Homo sapiens: one gene and its partners. The protein of the gene in region 2 purifies or fractionates together with the protein of the main gene of each other region. This does not show direct contact. Each region holds a gene or a part of one and is shown on either strand. Other genes may lie near its edges.

Evidence for each region.
Region 1: the proteins of SLC15A4 (region 2) and HAT1 purify together in Homo sapiens (affinity purification with mass spectrometry; 2 studies listed by BioGRID and IntAct, with this or other methods). This does not show direct contact.
Region 3: the proteins of SLC15A4 (region 2) and CLCN7 purify together in Homo sapiens (affinity purification with mass spectrometry; 2 studies listed by BioGRID and IntAct, with this or other methods). This does not show direct contact.

The regions. Positions count from the first base shown.
Region 1 is NC_000002.12:171,960,365-171,967,470, reverse strand, and holds part of HAT1 (histone acetyltransferase type B catalytic subunit), read right to left. Parts: intron 2,134-7,106; coding exon 1,954-2,133; intron 1,685-1,953; coding exon 1,563-1,684; intron 1,063-1,562; coding exon 958-1,062; intron 629-957; coding exon 522-628; intron 1-521. UniProt on the Homo sapiens protein: Histone acetyltransferase that plays a role in different biological processes including cell cycle progression, glucose metabolism, histone production or DNA damage repair. Coordinates histone production and acetylation via H4 promoter binding.
Region 2 is NC_000012.12:128,820,956-128,828,324, reverse strand, and holds the start of SLC15A4 (solute carrier family 15 member 4), read left to right. Parts: upstream 1-4,366; 5' UTR 4,367-4,381; coding exon 4,382-4,927; coding exon of another isoform or gene 4,928-5,077; intron 5,078-7,369. UniProt on the Homo sapiens protein: Proton-coupled amino-acid transporter that mediates the transmembrane transport of L-histidine and some di- and tripeptides from inside the lysosome to the cytosol, and plays a key role in innate immune response.
Region 3 is NC_000016.10:1,444,395-1,451,094, forward strand, and holds the end of CLCN7 (H(+)/Cl(-) exchange transporter 7), read right to left. Parts: intron 6,273-6,700; coding exon 6,103-6,272; intron 4,934-6,102; coding exon 4,882-4,933; intron 4,700-4,881; coding exon 4,572-4,699; intron 4,373-4,571; coding exon 4,287-4,372; intron 4,091-4,286; coding exon 3,961-4,090; intron 3,321-3,960; coding exon 3,261-3,320; intron 3,175-3,260; coding exon 2,998-3,174; intron 2,693-2,997; coding exon 2,612-2,692; intron 2,324-2,611; coding exon 2,237-2,323; 3' UTR 541-2,236; downstream 1-540. UniProt on the Homo sapiens protein: Slowly voltage-gated channel mediating the exchange of chloride ions against protons. Functions as antiporter and contributes to the acidification of the lysosome lumen and may be involved in maintaining lysosomal pH.

The DNA of each region.
Region 1 (7,106 bases), on a different chromosome or scaffold from region 2:
CTGAAAGACATTTCCAAAACAAATAGGCCTACATTTCACCTTATCTACTACTGTTGTGAAGGCATGCATTTTAGGAATACAAAACACACACTTTAGGAAATGTGTATTCTATTCAAGAAGTATTTACCTTGACTTTTTTTCTCAGTAAAGTTTATAATATTCTGCCCCTACATGTAAATTAAAGTGCAGGCTGCCTCTAAATAATGCAACTGTTTGCCAAATAAAGTGAACAAATAAGTTATACCATACTTTCAACGTATTTACGCCTGACCAAGACTTCCCCATATATATTCAGCTCATTATCTTCAATTTGTTCCATTATGCACTTCACAGTTAGGGATGTAATCCAATCCCCACAAAGGCTTATGCTCTAAAACATAAACTTAAGCCATCTTTAGATGGCTTAAACACCCTAGGAAAATGTTGCTGTTTAAAATAGTTATTTCTGACAAAAATAAAATCAATCAGTAAGAAGACATTTTTAGAAAGGCTCTTTCAGTAACAAATCAAATTTTACATACCTGTAATATCAAGAACTGTAGGAAATTCAGTGTAGTATCTATGAACTGTTTCAAGAAGTTGAGCACCATGGCCTTGACCTTGAAATGGAGTCAAAATCAGCATCTGACTACAGTAAAGAAATTATTTTAAAATTAAAATATCATAACATGACCAGTTTAAAACCTGCAGATCACTATAGTATTACAAACACTTTAAAGTTTGTGTGATCTTTTTTTCAATCCACCTTTGAGATACCCAAAAATTATCAAGATACTCAAAATTAGTTTAATCTTCTACACTGTTTCAAAGGGAACAATGAAATAAATCAGTACATAGCCCATGAATAATAGTGATTTTTTTTTTAAACAAATCAACACTATTATAACAAGTATTGGAAACTTCAGCAGTTCCTTCTTCTGAAATAAAAGACAAGGCACGTGTTATACTGCCAATTACCTTACACGTGGCCGGGTTTTGTCTGGGTACACATAGTAATTATAGACTGTCATGTAGCCTACGGTCGCAAAGAGCGTAGCTCCATCCTTATTATACTTCTCAAATCTGCAGATAAAACAGAAAGCCAAGCAGGTCAATTACAGTCGCGCTCCCATGCAGTGTCCATTTTCTTTTCCATTCTCTGACTGAATTTTCAGTGTCAGCAAGCTACTCTGTGAGGGCCCAATGGGTACACCTGCTATGTTCTGAATGTACAATTCACTTAATTGGTGTGCAGCAACTTGGATAAATCAGACCTCTTTACATCACTTCAGTGCACTTGCCTATTATAAAGATGAATAGGTGGCAAGTAAAAGAAAACACAGGCAAAGCTCATTTTACTGTTTAAGCCTACATTCAGGGCCCTAACGGACAACAGCATTTAATTCAGCTCTATTCTCAAGGTCTCCCAAAGCATAATGAAGGAAAACTCAAGCCTCATAAACAATAGTTTTTCTTTCCTGGGAAAAATATCATTATACTGTCCCAATAATTGGGCTGCCACAATTAAAATGCTGGCTTTGTGGAGGTAATAAGGTCTACTGTTGCTTTAGAACTGTACTTACACTAGAAAGTAGTGCCATCTTTCATCATCCACGTCAATAAAGCTAGCAGTTTCAATAAACCACATCAAAAAGGTCTGAAGCCTTTCATGATATTCTCGAAAGCCTCTACATGTCATGTCAGCCTAGGGAAAAAGCCAGGAAAAGTCAGGTGAAACTCATCACAAAGGTAAGTGAAAGTCCGCAGAACACAAAATTATCCTGTGGGAAAATGTTTAGAAGTCTCAGATTAAGATGTGAACATAGATACAGACATACACACAAAATAGATCTTGGTTTATAATGCTGATTAAAACTTGTTTACTGCAGTTAGAATAAATCACTGACAACAAAACTACATACAGGTTTCAGGCAAATAGAACTTTACTCAATAAATATTTAGATTTATCTTTACCTTATATATCTGAAAGGTAAAGTTTTCTCCTCCTGTTGGACTGAGAACTGAGTAGGTATGAAGTAAGGTTCCGAATGGCTTGAAATCAACTTCCTTTTCCAGTAAAGAAAGGAAATCATTCGTGTTTGTGCAAAATCCAGGTGGAATGATTTGTCTAATTTTGCCCTCAACATCATCTGCCTAAAGAATAAAGGATATAAAAAATTAATAACAAATTCGACTTTAAGTTGAATATGGTTTATTTCTTTAAAACTGACAAAACCAACACAAATTACAAAACTTTGGTTGAAAACTAAAGAAGTAAACACACAGCGAATTGGAAAAGGATGAGCTTCCTGTGCACAAACTGCATCACACAAAACTGAGATGAGCATAATATAAAAGTAAATAAGAGAAGGCAGGTGACCTGATACCAAGTACAATAATAAGGGCAATGCTATGGACATTTCCATTATGCAGAAACAGCTGACTATACCCCTTCATGACAGTCTGAACTGGCCAAGGCAAAAGGTTGCTTATTATTTTATATGTGTCAAAGAAATCATATTATCCAAGACATGAAAAGATCACCAGCAGTGGTGAGATGAGACTAGAGTCTGACCAAATGAATAGCAATCTCACAACTAGATGGGTCACAATTCCCTCATATGCCAAACTCAAACTAAGATGATAACTTAAAAATATACATATTTAGGAAATAACATAAATTATATGAATGGATATATCATTCTTTTATCCTTAGAATGTGACACAATTCTTACAGACCTGGATTTGTGACAGTAAAAAAGAGACAAGACTGGACAACAAAACTAAACTCGGAGATTAAAATTACCCTTGTTAAACAACCTCTATCAATGTTATCAGCTGAGCAGACTTCATAATCCTTTTCAAAATCCCAAAAGACCACTTGATTGAATACATTTACTACTTCTCTTTAACCATGAATATTTGATGAAGTCTTACAATAAAGTATTGCTGCTTCTCACCAGGCAATAAAACTTAATGAATTGGTCTCAACTTAACAAAACCTTATCCCTCAATACAGTCCCTAAAAGCCTGACATTACATTCAACAAAATGAGCTTGTATTCTATTCAAACTTTTTCCTGAACAATGAGGCCAGGTTTTTACTTAATGGAGTTTGCCGTGAGTTCAGCTGTAATGTTTGTATTGTATCTATTTCCACAAGGACTGACACAAGAACACTTTGTGTTAACTTACTAAGCAGCTCTTTCATACCGTTTACATGCATGATGGGTATTAGTTCTAAACCAAGACCCTTGCTACTTAGCATTCAAAACAGGGAAATTAAGATGCTTAGGACAAAATACACTACAAAAGGCTAATACAACATGCTACTAATTCCTATCCTTTCAACCATCTTTTAACTAAGTAGAAGCAATGCACCTGCAGATGAATAGCACTTTATTATGATTCAGTTACATTTCAGGATAGAGAACCAGTGATGACGTTTATCACAAACAAGTTTTATTTTCAATGCTCTGGTACCACCAACATTTATATATAATTTGTTTATAGGTATAAAAAAGACCTATTATTGAAAATATAGCTCTTCAGCATTTTGCCCAACAGTTTATTTCTAATATGTACATCAGTCCTTGCAACTCATTCACACTCTAGATCAAATAAACTGCATTTCATAGGACAGTTTTTGCTTATTTTTAAAGTACTATTTGATAAATATTTTTCCTTGAAATTGCTAACATGAAGAGGCCATCGTAAGCATATTTTATAGTATCAGTACAATTTCAACAGCTATCAAGGAAACTGTCATAATGAGGGATAGCTGTAATAGATGTGTTGTGTAGCAATTAAAATCCAAAGTAGTGATGAGTAAAACAGTATAGTATGTTAGTTAAGGTTTTTAAAAAGCCAAGAAAAACTACTTTTAAAAAGGGATTTATAATCTATCAGTTTAAAAATCACTTTAAGACTTTCATAGCATGTATAATTTTAACTTTTAAAAACTTTCCTTATGTCCTGTCTTCTCAAGAAGGCATTGCAAATCACTTTACATATCTTGTATCAAATCTACTTCAAAGACTTCTCAGAAACTCTAAGTTTCAAGTAGCACTTTTGGTGGCGGGCAGAGCAACCAGAAGGTTTGAGCCCAACAAAGTTGAAAAAGGGCTTTCAGCCTTCAAAGGATGTCTATTTCCTGTAATAAATATCTTCAAATAAAATAGTTTGCTTTGTGTAAGTTTACACATTAAGAATTTTTACGGGGCAAAGGGCAATTTTAAAGCAAGGAATCTTTATATAATTATATAAATATATATTTATAAATAGTTATGTATATAAATATGTATCTGATATACTTACATAAAATATACAACTTAAAACCAAATAGTTCTTCAACCTAGAATTTACAACTTCGCTTCACTAAAGGGAAAATGTCTGCATTTCTCTATTAAATGGATTCTGCTTTAAGAAAAAAAAAAATCCTGACTACCATGTCTTAGAGATCTGTACTCTTTTCTCAAATATATAATTTAGTTTAATTTAAAATATTCGTCTTTCAGATTGGATTACTGATCAGATAATAAAATCAGCACAAGAGCAAGACCTCATTTAATCATTGTTAATTGAATAGAGTTAAAAATGAACAGAAACTTTTTAATTCCAATGTTTGTGGCTAAAAGTTTAGAATCTATTTCTGAAGATCACTGAAAAATTCCCTGTATTCCAGAGCATTATTCTAAACTTCAACTAAAATTATACAGAAATATAGAAAGGGTAAGAAATTCAGCTGACTAGACACACCAGGGAACTAGAATTTCAAAAAAATTTTTAAAAAGACACCAGGCTGGGCATGGTGGCTCACACCTATAATCCCAGCACTTTGGGAGGCCAAAATACGCACATCACCTGAAGTCAGGAGTTTGAGACCAGCCTGGCCAACATGGTGAAACCCTGTCTCTAATAAAAATACAAAAGTAGCTGGGCGTGGTGGTGTGCACCTGTAATCCCAGCTACTTGGGAGGCTGAGGCAGGAGAATCACTTGAACTTGGGAGGCGGAGGTTGCAGTGAGCCAAGACTGCGCCACTGCACTCCAGCCTGGGTGACAGGGTGAGACTCCGTCTCAAAAAAAGAAACCAGAATACAACCTGATATATTTAATTAACAAAGACATCTCTTACAAATGGTTTCCTAACGCTTGGTAATTTATTTTTAAAAAGGAAAGTGCAAAAGTATTCTAGTTAGATATTCTGGTAGGTGGGTCATTATGAAATATTTTTAGATTGTATACTATTTAACTATGGTCATTTCAAGTTCCAGTGTTCTGTACTTTATTACACATGAACATGTTCATATGGAGCAATTTTTGCATTTCCTCATTATTGAATAAAGCGATATGCCTGATAATTAGTAATCTATTTTTTTAATGTTTATATTTGTATTTATACACATTTGAAAACCCAATAACCTCTCTAACATCTTATCTTAAGCAGCACCATTTGTCTAAATTTGTCTAGTTATTTTTGAGATTGAAATTAAAGGCACGTTAAGTAGGTGGTAACATGTTGTTCTTTACTTGGCTAAAGTGGTACATAGACTTAACTATAATTCTAAGACTACCTAAAATATGCTAAAAAAAAAAAAAACAAGCAAAAGAAATTCTGTATCTACTTAATGTTCTCAATCTCATGTTCTCTGATAATATTTAAGCTTTAACTACAGAATGTATTGTTGAGAAATTAAAAGTGTGAACTTTTTCACTAATGGAAAAACAAAGGTCATATTATGTTTATTTACACTGCATTAGTATTTTGCTACTTGAACTAAACAAGATAAACTTGTCAATATATACTTTTAAAGCTCTTTATGATATTTCATAAAAAGTATTACTTATCAAGAACACCATCACAATTTGAAATTTTACTAGTCTACCAAAGATTTTTTCGAAATTTCTGGAAGTATGTAGGATTTTCCTAGAAAGAGGCTAAACACTCCATAAAATTTTTAAAATCTGCTCTCATATCCTCTCAAATTCAATCCAATTAGTGGGACACTAGGATAAAATAACTGAAATTCACAGTTAATACAAACTTTATCCATCTATTTCAACTTCCTGTACCAAACTTTTCCCAGAAATGCTAGCAATTAGCAAGACAACAATCTTAGTTACCCACTACTTCACTAAAAGGCAATGAAATTACCCCCAAGAAAAGGCAGGAGGTTTTTGTTTTTAAGACAAGAGTCTTGCTCTGTCACCTAGGCTGGAATGTAGTAGTGTAACCATAGCTTACTGCAGCCTTGACCTCCTGGGCTCAAGAGATCCTTCTGTCTCAGCCTTCCAAGTAGCTGGGACTACAGGAGCATGCCATCATGCCTAGCTTTTGTTTTCGTTTTTTGAGACAGAGTCTTGCTCTGTCACCCAAGCTGGAGTACAGTGGCGCGAACTCGGCTTCCTGCAACCTCCACTTCCCGAGTTCAAGTGATTCTCCTGCCTCACCCTCCTGAGTAGCTAGGACCACAAGCACGCACCACAACACCTGGCTAATTTTTGCACTTTTGGTAGAGATGAGGTTTCACCATGTTGGCCAGGCTAGTCTCAAACTCCTGACCTCAAGTGACCTGTCCACCTCGGCCTCCCAAAGCGCTGGGATTACAGGTTTGAGCCACCACGTTCAGCATTTTTTTTTTTTAATAGGCAGGGTCTTATTATGTTACCAAGGCTGGTCTCAAATTCCTGGCCTCAAATGATCCTCCTGAGTCAGCCTACAGAGTAGCTGGCATTACAAGCACAGAGCAGGAGGTGTTAATAAAAGCAAAGGTCAAGGACAACCAGATGAAAAAATCATCAGTGTCTGAATAATCAAGTTTATTGTATTGTAAAATTCAGAATTATGTTTCCTTTAAAGATGGTGGCTAGTAGAGATTTTATAGGCATCTTAATTGTGACTGAAGAATTTTAGGTGCAACTAGAGCATTCAGCTTGGAAAAGTAAAAGAATGGATGATTAAAAATTAATGTAATGACATAATCCTAATAAGAAATAACTTCTAAGCAGATGTTATGGCTGCTGACCATCTATGCAGTATGATCTGCAAAGCCCTAATATATTAGACTCAAACCTAACATCCAAAATAAAATTTTTTTATTGTTTCCACTTAAACCTATTTCTTCTA
Region 2 (7,369 bases):
GTCCAATACGGTAGCCACTAGCCACAAACCACTTGCAATATGGCTAGTGTAACTGAGGAACAGAATTTTTCATTTTATTTAATTTTAACTAGTTTCAATAGCCACACATAGCTAGTGGCTCCTGCGCTGGACTATGCAGATATGGAGAATTTTCTCTATGATAACAAAAATAAGACAATAGTGAGTGGGGAGGGTTTAGGAAAGCTAGAAAGTGTCTGCCATCTAAAGACAGTGGCTGCTGCTGAGTGTCAGCAGATTGTGGCTACAGGGGGAAGCAAATGTGTTTCCATTACCTGTTGCTACATAATAAACTGCCCCAGAATTTAGTGGCTTAAAAGAACAACCATGTTATTTGTTTACAATTCTGCTATCTGGGTTGAGGCTCAGCTGTGTGGTTCTTCTGCTGGTCTTCACATGGCTGCATTCAGTAGGCAGGTCATCTGGAATGCTGAGAATCCCCTCTCCACATAGTTGCAGACTCCTCCTCAACATATGATGGAAGGCAGGTGGACGTCTAATATGATGGCTCCGGACACCCCAGTCATGAAAGTGGAAGGTGTCAGACTTTAAGCCTGTGCCCAGACCAGGCCCAGAGACACTTTTGATGTATTCTCTTGGTCAAAACAGGTCACAGGACAGGCCCTGTGGTGTGATCTCTGAGGAATACATAAAGGCTTGAATACTATGGGGCATGGTTCAAAGTGATGGGATCATACTAATGTAACAGGTAATCACAAGTCCAGCATTGCCAGAGCTCACATTTATTTTCCCCAAATAGCAAGGCATCCAAATTTATATGTGAAACCTTTCAAACTGTAACTATTAGTTCACTTTCTTTTGGTACCAGCTTTATGGAGACATATTCGCATACCATATAATTCACTTATATAAACTGTAGAATTCAGTGGTTTTTTAGTACATTCACAGAGATGTGCACCAATCTTCCCCTCCCCTCCCCCAGTATCAGGAAACTGTACTAATCTGCATTGTCTGTATGGATTTGCCTATTGCCTATTCTGGCCATTGCATATAAATGTGATCTTGCCAGATGTGGTCTTGGCTCACTTTTTTGTTTTTTTAAACTTAGCTTTAGTTTTCTCAAATGAGGCAATGCAATCGGATTAGTTTACTATCATTCAAAAATGGCAGAGTGTATTGAGCACTGTTTGGACACTGGGTTATCACATGATTCAAATCATTTGCTTTGCTTTCATTCCATGTTTAATGTTAATTTTACTCTAGACTTTGCCTGAGCGTCAAACCTATCAGTCTTAGAAAAAATACTCAAAGATTCTGTCTCCTCTACCAACTGCAAAGTGGAAGCAGCACTGGACTCATAATTAGATATAAGCCTTTCATTGAAGTCTGAGTTCTATTGCTTTCTTTTTTATTTTTTATTTTGAGACAGTTTCGCTCTATCACCCAGGCTGGAGTGCAGTGGCGTGATCTCGGCTCACTGCAACTCCACCTCCCAGGCTCAAGCGATTCTCCTGCCTGAGCCTCTTGAGTAGCTGGGATTACAGGTGCGCAACACTACCGCCTGGCTAATTTTTGTAATTTTAGTAGAGATGGGGTTTCACCATGTTGGCCCGGCTGGTCTTTAACTCCTGACTTCAAGTGATCTGCCTGCCTTGGCCTCCCAAAGTGCTGAGATTACAGGCATGAGCCACTGTGCCACTGCACTCCAGCCTGGGTTACAAGAGCGAAACTCCATCTCAAAAAGAAAAAAAAAAAATGGCACATATGTGTGTGTGTGTGTCTATATGTACATGTTCAAGGACATATATTAGTATCCAATAATAAGTTAAAATACTAATATATGCCCTTGAACATGTATAGACACATATATATACACATGTATACATGCACACATATACACACACTTATATACACACATATATACATATATACACACAGATATACATATGTGTATACACACACATATATGAGAACATAAGGTGACTTGCATCATTTACATTCAACAAATGGTCAGTCATTCACTCATCCAGTTCAATCTAATACCTATTTATCATTGGCAAGTGCTGTGCCAGCCTCTAGAACTACAATCGTGGTTAAAACAAAGATCCCGGCCATCCCAGCTTTGAAGACAGGCATTCAATAGTTGCACAAAATAAGTATAAATTATAACCGGTGCTGTGGGAAAAAAGTATAGGGAGTTCCAAGGCCATAAAAACGGGGAGCTAACCTAGTGTGGCAGGGTTAGGAAAGTGATATTTGAGCTGACAGCTGGAAATGACAAGCATCAACAGACAGGTGGCAAAGGTCCAATTCGGGCATTCAATTATTCTCTCCTTAGACATTGATTAAATATATATTGCCTGCTGTGTGGCAGCACTGTGCTGACCATCAGTCTATCTGTCGGACATTTAAAAAAGTTTTTTAAAAAGAGAATGCATGCAACTTCAAGACTTACTGGCAGGATTACTTCTCCAGATGACCTACTGGCAAGCCAACTTCCCAGCTACTGGCTCCACCCTCATCTTAGCTGGAGGGAATGATGAAGGAAGAGGAGGTGGTCTTACACTAATTGAATCATTGCAGCAGCTGTGGATCACGATTCCTTTCTTTCTTGCCTTTTTTTTTTTTTTTTTTTGAGACAGGGTCTCACTATGTCACCCAGGCTGGAGTGCAGTGATGCCCTCACTGCTGAATGCAGCCTCTACCTCCCGGGCTCAAGCAATCCTCTTGCCTCAGCCTCCCAAAGTGCTGAGATTATAGGCGTGAGCCATCATCCCAGGCCGGGGTCTCAATTTCTTTTTTTTTTGTCTTTTTTTTTTTTTTTGAGACGAAGTCTCACTCTGTCACCAGGCCGGAATGCAGTGGCACAATCTCGGCTCACTGCAACCTCTGCCTCCCTGGTTCAAGCGATTCTCCTGCCTCAGCCTCCTGAGTAGCTGGGACTACAGGCGCCTGCCACCACGCCCAGCTAATTTTTGTATTTTTAGTAGAGACGGGGTTTCACCATGTTGGCCAGGATGGTATCGATCTCTTGACCTCGTGATCCGTCCGCCTCGGCCTCCCAAAGTGCTGGGATTGTAGACGTGAGCCACCATCCCAGGCCGGGGTCTCAATTTCTGAAGCCATGCTGAGGGCCATTTTTGGGCGGCACTCTTTCACTCCACTATGTGCCAGGCGCTGTCCCAGAGGCAGGGGGCACAGTGAGGAACAAAACACAAGAGAATCCTGCCATCAGGAAGCTTACACCTGTTAACACATGCAGGTTGGGGAGATAAACGAATAAATTAAAAAATGTAACAGGTAATAAGGAGAAAAGAGTAACATGATGGAATGGGATACTCGGGCCTTGGACAGGCTAGTGAAAAAAATGTTTCTCTGAAGTCAACACTTCGGTGGAAGGTTGAAGGATGAGAAGCCAGCCATGCAACCATAGATGGTGTAGGGGCAGTCTCTGGGAAAGCCTGAAACAGGCTGGAGCTTGCCTTGTTCTAAGCCAGTGAGTCTCAATGGGGGCGTATTTGCCCCCAGGAGTCCTTCGGCAAAGTCTAGAAGACATTTTCGGTTGTTAACCTGAGGTGCTAGGGGGTGGAACTGGCCCCTAGTGGATAGCAGAGGCCAAAGCTGCTGCTGAACATCGTGCAACGCACAGGACAGTCCCGTCGCTCAAAGTGCCAACGATGCACGGGTTGAGAAACCGGGTCCTCTCCAGGACTGAAGCCCAGGGCAGGGAGCACGGGGGCAGCCTGAGCAAACCCGCCTGGAGAGCAGCCGCCGTCTCAGTGTGAGTTTTGGCTGCCTACTGGGCCCCACCGAAGCCCGAAGAGGGCCAGGCTCCGGCTTCTTTGTTTAAACTCCCTTAGTCCGACTGCCTGCAGTGGCTCATGCACGTAATTCCAACACTATGGGAGGCTGAGACGTGAGGAACGCTTGATGCCAGGAGTTCGAGACCAACCTGAGCAACAAAGCGAGACCCCATTTCAAAAAACTGTTTAAAAATTAGCCACAGGCAGCGGCGAGCGCCTGCGGTCCCAGCTACCCGGGAGGCTGAGGTGGGAGGGCCGCTTGATCCTGGGAAGCTGAGGCTGCAGTGAGGCGTAACCGCATGACTGCGCTCCAGCCTGGGCGAGAGAGGGAAACCCTGTCTCAAAAAGGCAAACAAAGGCTCTCGGCCGCCAAGCTGCGGAATCCCAAGCTCCCCAAGACACGCAGTGATCCAGAATACCGGCCACCTCCTCGCCTAGTGCCCGGGGCGGGGCCGGAAGTTCCGGCGAGTGGGGCGTTGAGCAGCGGCGAGCCCGCCCAATAGGGACATCTCAGGCCCGGCAGTCTCGCGAGAAGGGCGGCGGCCCTGGGTTCTGGGACAGGTGACCCGGCGGCGGGGCGAGGCAGCTGGCGGCGTCGCATGGAGGGCTCTGGGGGCGGTGCGGGCGAGCGGGCGCCGCTGCTGGGCGCGCGGCGGGCGGCGGCGGCCGCGGCGGCGGCTGGGGCGTTCGCGGGCCGGCGCGCGGCGTGCGGGGCCGTGCTGCTGACGGAGCTGCTGGAGCGCGCCGCTTTCTACGGCATCACGTCCAACCTGGTGCTATTCCTGAACGGGGCGCCGTTCTGCTGGGAGGGCGCGCAGGCCAGCGAGGCGCTGCTGCTCTTCATGGGCCTCACCTACCTGGGCTCGCCGTTCGGAGGCTGGCTGGCCGACGCGCGGCTGGGCCGGGCGCGCGCCATCCTGCTGAGCCTGGCGCTCTACCTGCTGGGCATGCTGGCCTTCCCGCTGCTGGCCGCGCCCGCCACGCGAGCCGCGCTCTGCGGTTCCGCGCGCCTGCTCAACTGCACGGCGCCTGGTCCCGACGCCGCCGCCCGCTGCTGCTCACCGGCCACCTTCGCGGGGCTGGTGCTGGTGGGCCTGGGCGTGGCCACCGTCAAGGCCAACATCACGCCCTTCGGCGCCGACCAGGTGAGCCGCGCCCCCGCGCGCTGTCCCTGTCCCTGTCCAGCCCCTGCCCAGCCCCAGCCTCTTCCCCTGCCCCAGTCCCTGCCTCTGACCGCGGAGGGAGCCCCTTGCCCCGGGGGGCTTCTGTCTAGTGCCGAGGAATCCCGCCAGCAGGTGGGCCAAGACTGGAGGTACCGGTGTGATGGGTGCTGGAAGGGGTTTGCCTGGGGCGGGGTGAGGTCTACACACACAGTGATGGCCACAGTGGCTTTAAAGAAAAGAGAGGCCGGGCGCGGTGGCTCACGCCTGTAATTCCAGCACTTTGGGAGGCCGAGGCGGGAGGATCTCTTGAGCCCAGGACTTTGAGACCAGGTTGGGCAACACAGTGAGACCTCATCTCTACCAAAATTTAAAAATTTGCCCTCCGTGGAGGCGCACACCTGTAGTCCTAGCAGAGAAAGGAGGATTCCTTGAGCCTACGAGTTTCGGAGGCTGCAGTGAGCTAGGGTCACACCAGTGCACTCTAGCTTGGGTAACAGAGTGAGACCCCACCTCAAAAAAATAAATAAATAAAATTTAAAAAATACGCTGAGCGCAGTGGCTCACGCCTGTAATCCCAACACTTTGGGAGGCCGAGGTGGGTGGATCACCTAAGGTCAGGAGTTCGAGACCAGCCTGACCAGCCTGGCTAAAAATACAAAAATTAGCCGAGCGTGGTGGCGGGCACCTGTTCTCTCAGCTAGTCGGGAGGCTGAGGCAGGAGAATCGCTTGCACCCGGGAGGCAGAGGTGCGATGAGCCGAGATCGCGCCACTCCACTCCTCCAGCCTGAGCGACAGAGCGAGACTCTGTCTCCAAATAAAAATAAATAAATAAATAAAAAATAAATGAACGGGACCCTTCTATGTTCAGGCCCTGTAAGTTCAGACCAGAAGGCTAGGAAAGAGCAGTTGTTTGAGGAGCTTTCCAGACATGGGGATTCGCAGGTGCAGGGCCCTGGGCCAGGAAGCTGAGGGAAGGGGAAGCCCCCGTTGTTGCCTTAGCTTCCTTTACAAAGAAGTGGGAAAACACTCATATTGCGTCTTCGTGGCTTTAAAGGAGTTACGGGCTAGGTTGGGTCGGAAAGCTCAGATGAAAATGAGTTTGAATCAAGTTAGCATCAAGCTGCTCCCCTGCAACTGTAACTGCCAAGAAGTGAGGGAGGAACCACTGCAGCTCTTCAGGAGGGGCAAGGACGTGGCCACCAAGTATTATATGCAGAATAGGCCGCCTTTAAGAGCAATAGCAAAGTCAGATCGTTTCAGAAAATATAAAAAAAAGTGGGAAGTGAGGTGGAAGGCTGGGGCCGGATCATGTGAGGAGTGTTAAAGCGTTGGGGATACAGTCGAGAGCTTTACTGGGTTCCAGCAGGGAGTGATTTGTGCAGAGCAGGCACTACAGCTGGGGTAGCAGGTCAGGTCTGCTTCTTATTTTCTGAGGATTCACAAGCTAAGAATGGTTCTTAATATTTTCTTTCTTTCTTTTTTTTTTTTTTTTTTGAGGCGGAGTCTCGCTCTGTTGCCAGGTTGGAGTGCAGTGGCGCGATCTCAGCTCACTGCAACCTTCACCTCCTGAGTTCAAGCGATTCTCCTGCCTCGGCCTCCTGAGTAGTTGAGACTACACGTGCACGCCACTGTGCCCAGCTAACTTTTGTATTTCTAGTAGAGACGGGGTTTCACCGTGTTGGCCAGGATGGTCTTGATCTCTTGACCTTGTGATCTGCCTGCCTCGGCCTCCCAAAGTGCTGGGGTTACAGGCATGAGCCACGGCGCCCAGCTAGTTCTTACATTTTTAAGTGGTCGGAAACGGGATCATTTGTGACCAGTGAAAATTTTATGAAAATCAAATTTCAATCTCCATAAATAAAGCGTTATTGGAACATAGCCCCACCTGTTTCTGCAACACAGCCACTACACTGGGGCTGCTTTCACTAAGCAGTGGCAGAATTGAGTAACTGTGATGGAGACGAGATGTCTCATAGAACTCAAAATGTGAACTGCCTGCCCCTTCACAGAAGTGTGCGGATGCTTGTAGAGAATGGGTTGTGTAGGAAGTGGTGACATTAGGGACATGAGGTGGGAGTCTCTCCTAACTAGAGTGGAGGCAGTGGAGGTGGGTGAAGTGGATGGATGGAGTTCAGCTATGGAAGTAGAATGGGCAGGAAGTACTGGCAGGTTGTCTCCCTGTTTGTGTTCCTATGTAGGAATACCTGAGGCTCAGTCATCTATAATGGAAAGATGTTTCTTTGGTTTAGGGTTCTGCAGGCTGTACAAGAAGCAGGGCGCCAGCATCTGCACTGCTGAGGGCCTTGTGAATGGGAGCCAGCTGTGTAGAGATCACATGCACTAGAGGAAGTGAGAGAGGGGAGGGAGGTGCCAGGCTTGTAAACGACCTCTCTCATAGGAGAGTTCACTCCTGTGACAGCCCC
Region 3 (6,700 bases), on a different chromosome or scaffold from region 2:
GCTGGGCACAGGCCAGGGGGGTCAGGAGCCAGAGGAAGTCCCGTGAGAGCTCTGGGCCTTGAGGGACGAGCTGCTGCCCTCGTCTGGCTGCCTTCTCAGGGTCCCCAGGGAGGCAGGTGTGGGGCAGCGGGGCCGTTCCAGAACCTTCCTTCTCTCCCCAGAACCTCACGGCTTCACAGCCCAACTGCCAATGGAACTCTAGCCCTCAGCTCTCCCACTCCCGCAGGGCCCCCCAACTGCCTGCTTCTGGATGGATCTGAGGGGCCCCACTCCCGAGAGGGCGCAGACACGTGTCCTCTGGCAAAGGGGACTTCTTCAGCTGCCGAGGGAGGGGAAGGAGGCCCTGACGAGGCCTGGGCACGCCGGGAGGGACGCTGGGAGCAGGGAGGCCGAGAGCCCCAGGACACCCCGGACACAGCCAGGCCCACGTCCGAGCGGAGCCCGAGGCCTGGGCAGCGCCATCGGGGTGAGGGGCACAGCCGGGCTCCACGGGAACCCATCTTGCTCAGCAGCCCCATTAAAAGGCAAGAAGCAGCGATGTGAATCCTAACCGCTGATTTTATTTAACCGAATATATCCAAAATATGATCACTTCCAGGTCCTCAGTACACAACCACCACGAGGGAAACCCAGACCTAGGTTTCCGGCGCCGACTCTGAGGCCCGGGAGTTTTCTTCTTGCGTCACCCCAGCGTGGGCACCCCGGCCCGCCCCCCTCCACCTGGAGCGCCTCTGCCTTGCCCCCAGACCCACCAGCCAGGAGCCAGAGGAGGGAGGCTGAGGGGCGGGGACGAGGAAGAGGATGTGGCTGGTGCCCTGGGTGGCCGCAGCCGCTGTCTTTCACGCCTTTCTCACTCCACACGGTGCCCCGACCCCAGGGTCCCGAAAGTCCCAGGCTGTTGGACGTGGTCTGGGTGGGGTGGGAGGGACGACGCTGGCAAAGGCGGGCTGAGAGGATTTCTTTATTTCGCGTTCAGACCCAACACACTCGGACACCTTGGGGCCCTGTGAGGGCTAAGCAGGGTGGTGGCGTCAGCTCCCGGGGAGGCCCCACTCCCTGGGGAGGAAATACACGGCAGGGGGCCGCACCCAGCCCCCCACGGAGGGACCCGTGTTGCTCTAACAGGGACACTGAAGTTGCCTCTGCCGCCCCGTGAGGGGCCTGTGGCGGCCCCAGACCCAGCCCAGCCAGGCCAGAGGAGCCTCCCAGGGGCCCTCAGGTGGTGAGGTGGGGGCTTCCCGGCCCCGGTGCCCACCGGCCCTTCTAGCTGCCTGTGCTGGGCCAGGTGTCCTCTGAGGCCGGCAGGAGTCTGGCCCCCGCTGCACCTGCGCTTGGTGGCTGGCAGGGGCGGGGTAGGGAGGTCACCCTCGAGGCCGGGGTCCCCATGTGCTAGGGGAAGACCTGCCTTCCCAGCCAGTGTCCACAGGGCAGCAATTCCACGCTCTGAGGCTCAGGGACCAAGGCAGGGCTGGGTGTGGGGCCCAGACTCCAAGCTCTGGGGGTTGGGGGACCAAGGCAGGGCTGGGCATGGGGCTCAGGGCCTTGGAGGTTTTTCTCAGCTCTCAACATCACAGCACAGGGCCCGTGAGTCACCCCAGTCCTCTGGGCCTGTGTACCCAAGCCGGATGCAGGCCGGGGAGTGCACGTGGGGCTCCTCTGTGGCGCCAGTGTGAAGCTGCTCTCCGGGGCGGTCGCAGCCTCCAAACCCTGGTGCTACGAGTCCGTGCCTCAGGCCCAGGGACCACAGGCCGTCTGCTCATGGCTGAAAATGAGGCCAAGCAGCTCCCAAGTCTCGAAGACTCCACTGGTGTGGAGGCAGAGGGGCCCTTCCAGGGCAGGGCAGCCCTCGGGGCAGCAGCAGGGGCAAGGGCTCTGTCTCACGCACACGGGCACAGGCACGCAGGTGCCGGCCCTGCCGCTGGCTCCCAAGAGGCCGATAGCCCGGTAGGGAGGTCACACACACACAGCTGATCCCTGGAGGTAAAGAAACCTAGACGAGGAGAGTGGAGGCTGGGCCTGCGCAAGGAGGCGCCAAGGGGGGAGACCACTGCCCACAACAGGGTCAGTCCCGCGAGAGGGTCAGTTCCGCGCCTGCCGCCTGCCCGCCCAGCTGCAGGGTGCTCGCCATTGCCACTGCTGGGGAGCATGGTTTGGGCCGAGAAACCAGTGACTCCGGGAGGAAATGCAGAAGGGCCGGGGTGCCAGCGCCAGTGCCCATTATGGGCAGGGCTGGGCCTCACGTCTGGGCCAGCGAGAGCTCCTCCAAGCCTCTCTTTCCCAGGCGGTACCTGGCGAGGTCCTTCCTGGTCACCAACCCGACAACCTGCAGGACAAGTCCAGGCCACAGTGACACACGGGTCGGCTCCCGCCTGCCTGTGGAGCTCCCTGCCTTGTGTGTGGCTGGGGCAGCACAGGCAGGGGGCCCTGGGGGCTTCAGCACAGCCCCCGAGCTGAGCACGGGGCTGGGGAGGGGTGCAGCCATGGGGCATGGGCCGACTCGGTGCTGGGTCCTGTGCTTCCGTGTCCCCTGCCGGGAGCTGAGAGTAAGCACGGGCAGGAGGCAGAGGGGAGCCCTGCACGGCATGCCTGCACCCCCACCGCCCCCGCTCACCTGATTGCGGTTGTCCACCACCACCAGGTGCCGCAGGCCCAGGGCCCGGAACAGCTTGAACACCCGTGGGAGCGACGCCTCCTGCAGCAGGGGCACAGCTGTCAGTGCCCGCCCACACAGCAGAGGCAGGCGGGACCCTCACCCAAGCTGGCTCCCTGCACCCCCCACCACGGCGTCCAGGCACGTCCTGAGCCCCCACGCCCGTCTGGCCAGCCCCCTCAGCCCCTTGACTTCAGCTCTAAAGCCTGCCAGGCCCTTCACAGGAGACAGAGTCACCGAGTCCTCTCCGCTGTGGCCCCCCCCGGCTGCCCCTCCCCGAGGCTCTGGACCCCACCCCCTGCTGTTCAGTCCCAGGCCCCACGCCCATGCCCATGCCCTGCACATGCCTGGGGCACCGTGTAGGGGGAGGGGTTCATGAACTCGGAGAGGTCCATGGTGCACTCCCGCTCGTCCTGGGACACGTGGATGGACTGGATGGGTGGGAAGCGCGGGTAGGCGTCTCGGAAGTCCTTCAGCCTCAGGCGCCGCTGTACCAGGCCCAGGTTGGACCGCTCCACAAACACCTGCGGGCGGCAGAGCCCTGTGTCAGGCACCCAGGCAGCACCCCCGGGGCCCCCACCCGCCCAATGGCCCGGAGCCTGGCACGCACCTTGTGCTTTAGGAGAACGATGAGCTGGGAGCGCAGGATCAGGCCCTGGAGCCGGGCAGGCTGCAAGACAGGCCCGCGGTCAGGGCCACGGGCCCGAGGGTGGGAGGCTGCGCTGGAATGCTGTGTCGGGCCCCGCTCTGACCCTGTTCCGGCCAGATTTCCCATCTGGGCATGGGCCCCGTGTCGGTGGCTACCTGCTCACACCAGCCTCGCCATGGCATCCCACACGCACAATGCCACGGGACCCAAGGATCGGCGACAGGGTAGCGGGGCCTGACCGCGCACAGCAGAGAGCCAAGGGCCCAGGGATGGTGGCTTTGCTGCAGGGCAGATGCAGCCCCACTGGGTCCCAATAAAAACCAACCTCCAAACACCCAGTGTCCACGTCTAAAAGACACACAGCAGTGGCCGAGCTGTGTGTCCTGTCAGGGCCTCCTGACAAAGTCACGGCCCCCAGTGCCACGGCTCTCAGCCCAGCCTGGGTGCCAACCCCAAGACCCTGCCAGGCCGCAGCCCCCCCCACCAGCCTCAGCGTCCACACAGCCCTCCATGGCTGCACACTCAGCTTCCGGCACTCCTGGAACTGCCAGTGCACCCAAACGTGCAGCTTCCCCATCCTGCAAACCTTGCCGTGTGCTTCCCACCAATGGACTCGACAGAGGTCACATAGGCAGGACCCTGTCTATGGGGTGCCCGGTACCTGGGTGTCATCGGCATGCTCCACCACGGGGAAGCCGTTGTGATTGGACGCCGTGTCGCTCAGCACGTCCACAATGACGCCGACCTTCTCACGCCGCCTCAGGCAGGTCACTGGTGTGCTCATCACCTCCCTGCCGGAGGAGCCCGGCCACACATGCCCGTCACACGCCACCAACTCCCACAGTTACCTCTGCGGGCTGGTGAGGTGTGAAGCCGCTGGACAGGAAACGCGGGGCTGCCTGGAGCCCGCAAGCCGTGCACCCTGCCCCTGTGCAACAAGAGGCCGCTGGACACCCTCCCCACCCACAGGTGTCCTGGGCGCTGTACCTGGCAGTGAGTGAGTGTGAGGTGACCGGGGCCTCCCAGTGCAGGAAGGGCACACTCTGCAGCTGAATGTGCATGTCGTACAGGCCCTGCGGGCGGGGCGGGAACACAGGGCTTGAGGAGTCCACACCCACCCCTGGAGCCCCGAGCCTACCCCTGGGAGCCCAGAGGCCGCCCCCAGAAACCCTGAGCCTACCCCCCGGGACCGGCTGTTTGGAGGCTCACAGGGGCCCCTCCCCTATGGCAGCACCCACGCTCTCAGGGTGAGGCTTCGAGGCCCTGGCGCACCTCAATGAAGACGTCGCCCACGATCTTGGCGGTCATGAGCACCAGCATGATGGGGAAGCCGTAGGTCACGTTGCTGGTGGCCTCCATCATGATGACGGTCAGGCTCAGTGTCATCCGCACAATCCCGCCTGCGGGAGCCATCATGAACCCCAGCACGTCCACCCTCCTGGCTCAGGGTCACGTGGCCACTGCCTTCTCTGCAGCACCCATCCCATCCACCTGCTCCCAGACCCTAGCCCCGCAAGGACAGCCATGGCCCCCTCCAGACCCCGTGGAGCTCCCCACCCATCGGGCAAGAGCTGGGACATACCCAGCTGGGCAGCAGCTCCCATCAGGGCGTATTTGCCGGGGTCCGCCCAGATCTGTGGGAGGTGACACGGAGGAGGTGTCAGTGTGGTGGCAGGCCCAAACCCACCAAGATACACAGACGGAGGAGGCCCTGCCCAGGCCCAGCAGCCCCACAGCCAGGAACAAACCTCGTGGCCGCGTACATACACACAGAACAACCTAGCACAGTACACCCTGCTGCGGAGGCTGCATCCTTGGCCTGAACCAGGCGCTCAGCACCCGAGCAACAGGGGAGTGGCAGGCATGGAGGATGCAGAGGGCACAGTCACCACGCAGCAGCCCAGGCCAACTAGGGAGCACCGTCCAGCATGAGGAGTGAAACCCCGGCACACACGACACAGAGAGCCCCGGGAACATCAGGCTGGGCCACAGAACCCAGGCATGGAGGCTGCAGAAAGCGGGGCACGAGGGTCGGTGGGCACAGGGTTTCCATTCTGGGATGACGGAACATTCTAGAAGTGGTAGTGACGGCCGCACTGCCTCGTGAACGTGAGAAACGCCGCTGAACTGCCCTCTTTAAAACGATGAGTTTTACGGTATTTGAATCATGTTTCAATTTTAAAAACCAAACCAAACCCTTGTGCGGAGGGAGATGGGCAGAGCACACGGGCCTGGGGAGCAGGAGTGGGCGCTTCCTGCCGGGGATGAGAAGCATGGCCGGGGGCTTCCTGCCAGGGCCTCTTACAGGTTTTCAGTCTTATTTAAGCGACTGAAATGAGAAACAGAAGACACATAAGAGAACCCAGTCCCAGCAGAGGCAGGCAGAGAAGGAAGGCCTGCGGGGGCTGAGGTCTGGAGGGCAGTGTATGCCGCTCTGGCCCCCGGCCTCACAGAGAGCAGCCCTGGCCGGACATCCACCCCATGGAGTCTAGAAACAGCTCTGCAGCAGCCCACAATCACCTCTGCTTTTCATCACATTCTCAAGAATAAGGACACGAGCCTCCGCCCCCTACCTTCGCCTGGTCCAGACTCCACACATGGGCTGCGCTGCCACAGTACACGCTGCCACCACAGCAGGACAACGCCCACGGCCCGTGAACCACGCGAGGACAACGCCCACGGCCCGTGAACCACGTGAGGTGCGACACTTTTGTCCTGCCCTGGGACTTCTGCTCCGGCCCGCGATGCCGCAAGACCTGGCTCAGCTGCAGGGCCCCACAGCCTCCCCTCCGGCCCCACTCACCGCCGCCCCCGTGAGGTAGGACAGGGAGATCCCAAAGAGCCGGCCCCAGGCAGCCCCGATGAGCAGGGACGGGATGAAGACCCCGGCAGACACCGTGAGCCCGTAGGTCCAGCAGGCCAGGAAGAAGTAGACCAGCGTGAACAGGCCGAGGGTCAGGGGGTTGTAGGAGCCTAGGAGAGAAGAGGGGCTGACGGGGCCTCCACGACTCCCGCCTCCGCAGGACTGCCCTGCCCCGCTGCCCAGTCTCGGGCCTCACAGTCACCTTCCAGGAGCCCAGCAACCTGAGCTCCCGAGCCCAGCGGTCCCCAGAAGGCTCCCTGTTCTCAGCCTCCCTGGGAAGCAGAAAGGCTAAAAGGATCCCATGGGGAGGCCACAGGGGAAGAGGCTCTGCGGGGCCCTGATGCCAGCAGAAGCAGGAGCCGCGTCCAGCGGGGCGGCCCAGCTGGGTCTAGCAGCGCCAGGTCTACACTCCATGGGTGTGCACCGTGGTGCAGCTCGCAGCCTGGCTCCGGGAAGAGGGTGCCCCCCACAGCCTGGGGTTCCTTTCCTGGAGCAGGCAGCACTGTACTGCGTGCAGGGCGGGTGAGACCGCCAGGGA